3 separate regions of the Homo sapiens genome follow, and all the other regions are linked to region 1. The links come from fine-mapping of genetic effects on gene expression. A gene starts in region 1. Each other region holds a variant in brackets. All regions are shown on one strand. Distances are from middle to middle. Region 1 holds the start of UROC1 (urocanate hydratase 1). Region 2 overlaps UROC1 (urocanate hydratase 1). Region 3 overlaps UROC1 (urocanate hydratase 1).

The links.
Region 2: its variant is fine-mapped to the expression of UROC1 in naive CD8 T cells (Schmiedel 2018, PIP 0.95).
Region 3: its variant is fine-mapped to the expression of UROC1 in minor salivary gland (GTEx, PIP above 0.99).

The regions. Positions count from the first base shown.
Region 1 is chr3:126,516,335-126,519,087 of GRCh38, forward strand. It overlaps UROC1 (urocanate hydratase 1), which reads right to left and starts at 1,439. Exons shown (of 20, transcript NM_144639.3): 1 at 1,260-1,439. The coding sequence starts at 1,385.
Region 2 is chr3:126,496,197-126,498,949 of GRCh38, forward strand. UROC1 (urocanate hydratase 1) reads right to left here. Exons shown (of 20, transcript NM_144639.3): 14 at 1,855-1,976. Among named protein-coding and RNA genes, the nearest start is that of UROC1, 20 kb to the right of the region's middle. RefSeq lists an enhancer at 1,306-2,183. The variant T/C (reference allele first, on the strand shown) is at 1,145.
Region 3 is chr3:126,488,832-126,491,584 of GRCh38, forward strand. UROC1 (urocanate hydratase 1) reads right to left here. Exons shown (of 20, transcript NM_144639.3): 17 at 445-544. Among named protein-coding and RNA genes, the nearest start is that of ZXDC, 14 kb to the left of the region's middle. RefSeq lists an enhancer at 233-1,432. The variant C/G (reference allele first, on the strand shown) is at 1,234.

The sequences.
Region 1 (2,753 bases):
GCACCCACCACCTACCTTCCCCCTCGTCCCCCAGCACCCACCAACTAGCCTCCTCCCACCCCCAGCGCCCACCACCTACCCTCACCCTCATCACCCCAGCACCCACCACCTACCCTCCCCCTCATCACCCAGCACCCACCACCTACCATCCCCCCACCCCAGAACTCACCACCTACCCTCCCACCCCCCAGTGCCCACCACCTACCCTCCCCCCTCCCCCCAGTGCCCACTACCTACTCTACCTTGCTGGCCCCTCCCCCATTTCCCTTTCCCTCCAGCACCCGCTCCACCTGCCCCCAGTGCCCCACTCCCACAAGGACCCCCAGCATCCTCCTAGCCCCCCAACTCCCCTCCACCCCCACACCCACCAACCTGCTTCCCCTTTCTCCCTTCCCCAGCGCCAGCTCTGCCCTGAGTGACCCCTACTGTCCCCACTGTGTCCTGTTAGGCCTCTGTGGGTGGCTCCAGAAAAGTCCAGTGGGCTCCGGTGCAAAGGGCAGCCATCTTTACCTGGGGAGGTAGGATTCCTCTTTTAATCTTTATGCTTGTTTGCAGTTTCCACTTCTCTACTGTTTCTGAAAATCTTGAGTAGTTTCCAGTAAAAAGTAGGAGGAAAGTCTATATAACCGTGTCACCTACTTTATTTCATTACTCTTCTCCACAACCCCCTGGTGTCACCATTTTCATCTCAAGCTGACAAATGACAAAAGGGAGGTTCCCAGACAGGGCACCACTGGCAAGCGTGCACCATCCCTGGACTGCTTTGCTGTTAGATGAGGGGATACTGGCCTCAGCCCATCTTTCCCTGGCAACTGCCTGCCAGCTACAGGGTTCAGCCATGCAGCCGCACGTTCTCCAGAGATTTGCGGGAGGGACATTTGCAAATGAAAATAAGAGCTGACCTGTGTGCAAACGTTCTGAGTGTTGGGGTGGACGCGGCGCTTGGTGTGGGACACTTCACACCCACCCAAGGCCTCCTCCCACTGGAGGTGGCCAAAGTGCCACCAGTGACCGGCTGCTGACCTTGAGCCTCAGGGTCCTCATCTGTAAACAGGCACGGCGATCCTGCACCCAAGGGCGGCTGCATCCAAGAGACAGAGTCCACTGTGCATTGCACCCGCACAGGCTGGAGCCCCTGGAGTCCAGGGTGGGCGGCTGAGCAGCTCCCACTAAGAGGGCAGGAAGCCTGGGTGCTCACTATGGACCACCTGGAGGATGCCTAGAGGCCAAGGCCTCGGGAGCACGGGCCCACTGCTTACCTGTTTCTCCACAGGGCTGAGGCTGGGGGTCCTGACAGGGGCATGGGGCACCCCAGCCTGGCGTCCCCGGTTCTCTGGGAGGGGCCGCAGGGGCAGGCCAGAGCACAGCGCCTGGAGGCTAGACATGTGTGACTGAGATGGAGGCAGAGGCCAGCACTGTGGGGAGGCCAGGAAGAGACTGGGCAGATAGGGCAGGGACCTCTAGCCCCAGGGCCACCTCCTCCAGCCTCTCATTGGGCGCCTGGCCTGTGCAGGGAGCCATGTGCAGGTCGGAGGGTCACTGGCCTCAGGTAGGGCACTTGCAGCGCTGACCTGGGGAGGACATTGCTCTGCGGGAGGGCAGGCTTCACAGTGGGGAGGGGGGCTGGGCTCACTTCCCCTTCCAGGAGGGCTGTGCTGTCCGGGACAGCTTTGGGGGTGGGTGGGGCTCTAATGCTGGGGTGTGCTGTGGCAGCCCTCTGGTGCACCACACCAAACATTCGATGTGGGGATCTGCATCTTGATGATGAGGAGATGGGAAGCCATGTGACACTGAACCGGACACAGAGTGTAGAGCCCCTCCTCCTGCTACCTCCTGCTGGGGGGTGGGGTGACAGGTGGAGCGGGAGCACCCAGCAGCAGGTGTGCCCTCCTTGGCTCCCCACTGGAGGGCTGGGTGACAGGTGCAGTGGGGGCCCTCAGTGGCAAGTGTGCTCTCTTCAGCTCCCGCTGGGGGGCACACCACTCTACCCCCTCCCAAAGCTCTTTTTGAAGGACCTGCCTGAGGGATGACCCTCATTCCCAAATCTGTTAACAACTCTGCCAGAAAGCACTCTTCATGAGCCCTATGCTATGGATGGAGAAACCAAGGCCCGGGTCTCCCTCACACAGCCAAGAAGTGGCCGAAGCTGAATTCCAGCAGTCCGGGGGAAGCAACACACCTGGGTGTACCCAGTGCGAGCCTGACCAGCCCTGTGGCCTTTGGCCATGTCCTGTCTACACAAGTGGGTGGCGATGGACAGCTCAGCTGCAAGGCGGTGGAGTGCCGTTAGGCAAGCCCCAGTGCAGGGCCCGCACGTGGAAGCCCAGCTGCCTTCTGAGTGCTTGCTCCTCTGAGAGCATCCTGTGGGTCAGCCCTGAGGGGTTCGTTGCCCCCATTTTAAGGATGAAGAAACAGGTGGAGAGAGGGATGGGACTTGCCCAGGGTTACACAGCCAGTCATGGGGGGAGCTGAGATTGGAGCCCTGAGGACCCAGAGGTCTGGCTCTAGCACCCTCCCATCCACGCTGGCCCTTTTGCAGCACAGGGAGGGCGCCCTTAATGGGGGTGATGTGAGACTGTGATAGAATAAGAAACAGGCTTTGATCTCTTCCCTGTTCCTGCCACAAAGCTCCTGAGGCCCTGGTAGATGGAAACTCTAGGAGAATCTTTTGTTCTAACGTTTGATCTTTGACCCTGGTTCCTGACACAGAGCTCCTAAAGCTGTTGGAATTTCCTGGGTGACAGGAGCAGAGC
Region 2 (2,753 bases), 20 kb before region 1:
CCCCGAGCCCACCACTGAGCTAGGACACAAGGTGAGGGAGCCCACCCCACCCCACCCCTGCCTTTGTGAACTTGGGGACCAGCAGTGCCAGTGGCCCCATGAATTAATAATGCACAGCCGTGCAGCGCACTGCCTGATGCACTCGGTCCCTCCACAAATAGCTATTCAGTGCCTACTATACACCAACACTGAGCAAGGCACCAGGAACAAAGACCGCTGTGGGCCGTGAGGAACACAGGACTGTGTTGAGGGCTCCCCAGGATGGTGGATGCGGGGGCTTTCTGAGGAAGTGGCCATCAAGCTGAGTCTAAAGGCTGGGAAGGAACCGGACAAGGAAGCTCTGAGGGAACAGCCTTCCAGGCAGAGGGAACAGTCAGTGCAAAGGCCCTGAGGTGAAAATAAACTTGGCCTATGCAGGAGCTACCTGGCCAAGCTCACGGAGTATGTGTGCATGTGAGAGGGCACAGGAGCCAGCCTGACCAGCTCGTGAAAGCAGACTGGTAATTTTCCAGAAATTGTGGGAGCCAGTGGTTAACATAAATATCATTAAAATTTTAAATAAGCTTACACTTTTACCAAATTATATTAAAATGAAGGTAATAGAAATCCCTCACTCCTGTGACTTCACAGCCTTCGACTAGAGTATCTGCCTGGTGGAGATGCCGCAGGGCATGTGCTGCGGGCATGTGGAGCTGGGTCAGCACGCCTGGAAACCAGCCAGGCCTGGAGTCTTTACTCCAGGGTCTTCGTGGGTGCAGCAGCTCAGGGCTTCTTTCCGGAGGGCTGGTCGTTCCCCACTGGCTGCCTGCTGTTCTCACACCAGGGAAGCCCAGGAGACATCTGACCAGACCCCCAGGAGAAGGCCCCTGCTTCCCCTGCCCTCCTGCCTGGGCCCCTGCCCGCCTCCTCCTCCACAGGTGACCACGTCTCCCCTCTGCCTGGCTCTCCTACTCTGAGTCTGTGTAACCTGGGCCCCTGCCCAGCCCACCGAACATGGCCAGCAGCAGGGTGTAAGGGCCCTAGAGATGTGAAGCACACAGCAGAGGCTGGTGAACCACACAGAAAAGCCACCCGACCTGCAGGAAAGCTGCAGAGAGACCGGGGTAAGAACTGCAACAACAGAGGAAGTGTCATAAAATAACCA[T/C]GAAACAACAACGTCAGACCCACTCAACGAGAACAAAGGTTGGTTAAAACCCAGGCAGGCCATGTAGACATGGAAAAACACAACCCTCTGGCAGAACCAACACTCAGCATCAGCAAAACCCAGGATGAACATGGGGGACCCTGATGCAGAGGAGACCCTTGTGGACCTGGCAGGCGTGGAAGGCTGGCGGGAGCATGTGGAGACAGCTTCATCATGGAAGACAGCAAGAAGGAACTAGAAGCACTGCTGTCAGCACTGCCCTGGCCACGTGGAGGGGGAGGCTGGGTCTGAGAGGGACTGTGGTGTGCTGCGGGCTGCCCAGAAAGCCTGGCCCCGGCCACTGCTGCCTGGCCACCCTAGCCCTGGACCGTCCTGCTTCAGCCGCTTTGAGGGGCTTTCTGTCACTCGCAGCCAGAGGTCCTCACTGGCAGAGCCCAGGACAGCTCTGGAGGGCAGAGGCTTGGTGTGGGTGGGGCCTGTGCCTCCACGGCTGAGAACGACACTTGGGGACCAGGATCTTTGCAACTCACTCAAGTTTCTTTAAGTCCCTTTGTGTTGCCAGCTGAGCACCCACCAGACTCACAAAGTCATCTGCGCCCAGGTTCCCTCCCAGAATTAGCTAGGTGGGCCTGCTATAGAAGCTTGTCTCTATGGAGGCAGAAGCTTTGGGGGGGCCACCCACCCATGGGCATCCCCACCAATGGCGTCACCTCCATCAGCAATGGCTTCCTCCAGCACAGATGTGGCCAGTTCGTCTGTGACCGCCAGGTCCTGGGGGTCCCCCGATGTGCACACCCAGCGGAAAGGCCCAAATCCCTGGGAGAATATGTCCCTGCAAGCACAGATGCCTCCTCACCCTGGGCCCGCTGGCTTGTTGGGGGAGGGGGTGCAGGTGTGAGCATGCCAGGGAGGAGGGCTCAGCATCCAGAAGTCAGGTGTGGAACCCCCTAAGCTGTCATTGGACAGAAAGTTCCAGGGGCCTCCCTGTCCCCTCTCTGTGTCCCAGTGCCCCCAGCCCTCCATCCCTGCCTCCTGGCTGTACCATCTCTAGCTACAGGAGTGGGGAGCTGGGACCTGGGCAAACAGAAATGACCCCAATTGCTGTTACAGATGACAAGAAAATCCATCACCTAAAAGTGACAGTCACATTGAGAGGAGAGTCAACCTGGGGCTGTAGCCTTGGGGAACTCGCCCTAGGTGAGCTTATCTTCCCAGGAGCCAGGCTCCAGGACAGGGCTGTCCTGGGGGGAGGATGCCGTGGCCTGGGCCCTCCCTGGGCTCCTGCACTTGCTAGGCCAGGGGGTGCCTCCTCCTGGGCAGCCCTCCCTCTCCGGAGAGTGCCAGCTGACAGTGCTCAGCCCCTCCCACCTCTGCACCCCACAGTGAGCTTGACAGTAAGTGGCATTTGCCTTTCTCACCTCCATCTCTCTCTCGTCCCATGTGGCACCCACTGAGGACTGGCACATCTTCCAAAAGTCATGTGGTCCCTCCTGCCCCCAGCAGAAAGCCCAGACTTCTCAGCTTGGCCCAGGCTCCTCTCTGGCTCCCGCCCTCATCCCCTGCTTGTCCTGGGCTGCTGGCCTTCCCTAGACCTGCACCCCCATGGCCA
Region 3 (2,753 bases), 28 kb before region 1:
GTAGACAGCGGTAAAGGCGTTTGCACCCTCTTGCAGGCTCTTCCCCCAAAAATCCCAATGGGTGCCACAGAGAAGATCAGGGAGAACCCTAAGAATATCCCCCTCCTCTTGGTGCTCAGCTATGAAGATGGGGAAGAGACCAGGAGCCAAAAAAGGCAAGAAATGCAGCTCTAGGATCTGGAAAGGTAAGGAAACAGCTGGCTGCCCACAGCCTGTAGGTCACCCAAGTCCAGGGCACCCAGCTGGCCCGGTGTGCCTGGCACTTACCGGTTTTACAACTGGAAGTCCCACATCCCAGACCCCCTCAGTCCTGGGTTGGTCACTCTATGCCGAGCCTCTCAGGTGCCAGAACATCTTTCGAAACATTGTGACTGACTAAATGCATCAATTTTTAATAAAATCCAAATCTAAGATGAAAGTTTAAGACATTCTCATCTTCCTCACCTGCACAGAAGGCAGAGCCGTCGTAAATGTTGGAGGTCTCCCTAAAGGGGCTGTCGGTGCCGCTCACGTCATGGTGATCTCGGCTCAGGACCACCGGCGCCTGTGCATGGAAGGACAGAAGCTGTCAGCCAACAGTGTCCACCATGGCTTCCTGGTAAAGACTGAGGACAAGGGGCAGGTCACACCAGAACCCGCTGGATTTCTCCTCCTGGAAAATAGACCCTCTTCACAACTATTTCTGATGTCATCTGTAGCCTGGAATAGATTCACGTGTGCCCGGCAGCACTCGTGTGTAATACATGTGTGAGCTCACCGAGCACTCACAGCCACCCTGTTCAGATAGGCACAACCATTATCATGCCCACTTCATAGATGAGAAAGCGGAGGCACAGAGAGGAGAAGAAATTTCCCCTATATCACAGAGCGAGTGAGTCGTGAGCTGGGGTTTAACCCCACACGTGTTATATGCCGGCGCTCCTCGTCTTACGATGGTGCTACATCTTAATAAGCCCACTGTACCCTAAGTAAAAAACGACTTAAGAGTATTTTTAACTTACGATGTATTCATTTGGACGCAACCCCATTGTATGTCGAGGAGAGTACTAAACAAGTGTCACTTCACACCATTGTAAAGCAGAAAAATTGTTAAGTCCGAGTGTCCACTTAGTCTGGGCTCAAGCCTCAGGCAGCCTGGCCCCTGACCTGTGCAATAGAGACGTGGCTGGCTGATGGCCTGGAGGTGTTGGAGGGCCTCACTGGGGGAGTATTTGGCAGTACCTACCATGAGAC[C/G]TTGGGCAGGTCACTTCCGTCTGGGAATAGCTCTTGGTTTCCTGGATGAGGTAATTGCTAAGAGCCTTTTCGTGCTGCCAGTCTCTCTGAGGACAAAGACTTTTCGCACAGAGAAAGCATTCATGCTGAGTTTGATTTTTTAATACACTCATCGGCAGCACTCCTTGTTCCCCAGGAATCTCCGGCTGCTCAGATACCCAGGAGAGGCAGCCAGCTGCTGCTTTGCCCCCACGAGATGGATGTGGTACAGCCCTGGAAGTCAGGTAGGGCCATGGCTAAGGGCAGGTCAGCTGACTCCCTTATGCTGTGCATGGGCAGGCCTGCTATGAAAAGGAGTCCTGGCCGGGCACAGTGGCTCATTCTTGTAATCGTAACACTTCGGGAGGCCAAGGCAGGGGATCACTTGAGGTCAGGAGTTCGAGACCAGCCTGGCCAACATGGCAAAACCCGTCTCCACTAAAAATACCTAAATTAGCCAGGTGTTGTGGTGCACGCCTGTAATCACAGCTCGTCGGGGAGCTGAGGCATGAGAATCGCTTTAATCTGGGGGGTGGAGGTTGCAGTGAGCTGAGACCACGCCTGGGCTATGGAGTGAGTCTTTCTCCAAAAAAAAAAAAAGAGGAAAGAAAATGAGTTCTAACTGGCAATTTAAAAAACAGAGTGAAGGAACTGGGAGGAACCCTGACTAAAGAGAAGGAGTAGGGGGAGCCGTCGGACACTGCACAGGGAGCATGTCAGCCTGGCTCTGCACCTTTCAGTCAGGAGAGGGAGCACGCAGGTCAGTATGCAGTTTGCAGTGCACCTGGGGAGCAGCCCAGCTGTTTCAGCTAAGAAGTCCTATTCCTATCACCAGGTCCTGGAAACTTTTCAGGTAGCGCTGGTTGATGGGCGTGATCTTCCCAACCTCTCCAGGGGATCTCAAAATTTCACAGGCCCCTGTGCCAGAAGATGCATCCTGACAAAAGCCTGGGATGCCCTGTGCTCTTGAATGAAGAGGTCTGCCTTTCCCACCTTCAACAGGCCAGGCCTGTTCCCACGTCTTCACCTGTGCAATGAAACCACCTTCCCCCAGATATTCTGGCACTTTCTGGCCATTCAGGTCTCAGCTCAACGTTAGCAACTCAGAGAGGCTGTCCTGACCACCGCTCTTCGCCATGTTCATTTCCTGCACGCCGCTCCTCATCCTCTGAAACCCTGTCGCAATGTGTGCCTTCAGCTTTACGTCAGTCACCCTTCACCACACTACACGGGTCTGTCTTGTTCTCTGCTGTGTCCCTGGTGGTTAGGACACGCTGCACAGTGGCCATGCTCAGCCAAGCACTGTCCAGTGAATGGACACATGCTTACTGACCCCTTTCTGCTGGCCAGCTGACCGCAGCCCGGGGCGAGTGCGCCTGGAGCTTCCTAGCAGTCCCCGGGAACACCTGGGCTTCCAGGAAGCACTGGGTGGGTGCATTTGGCTGTGCCCTAGCAGGGCTGGCTACTGCCTTTGCTGCCGGTGCCAGCCCCAGAATCATGCC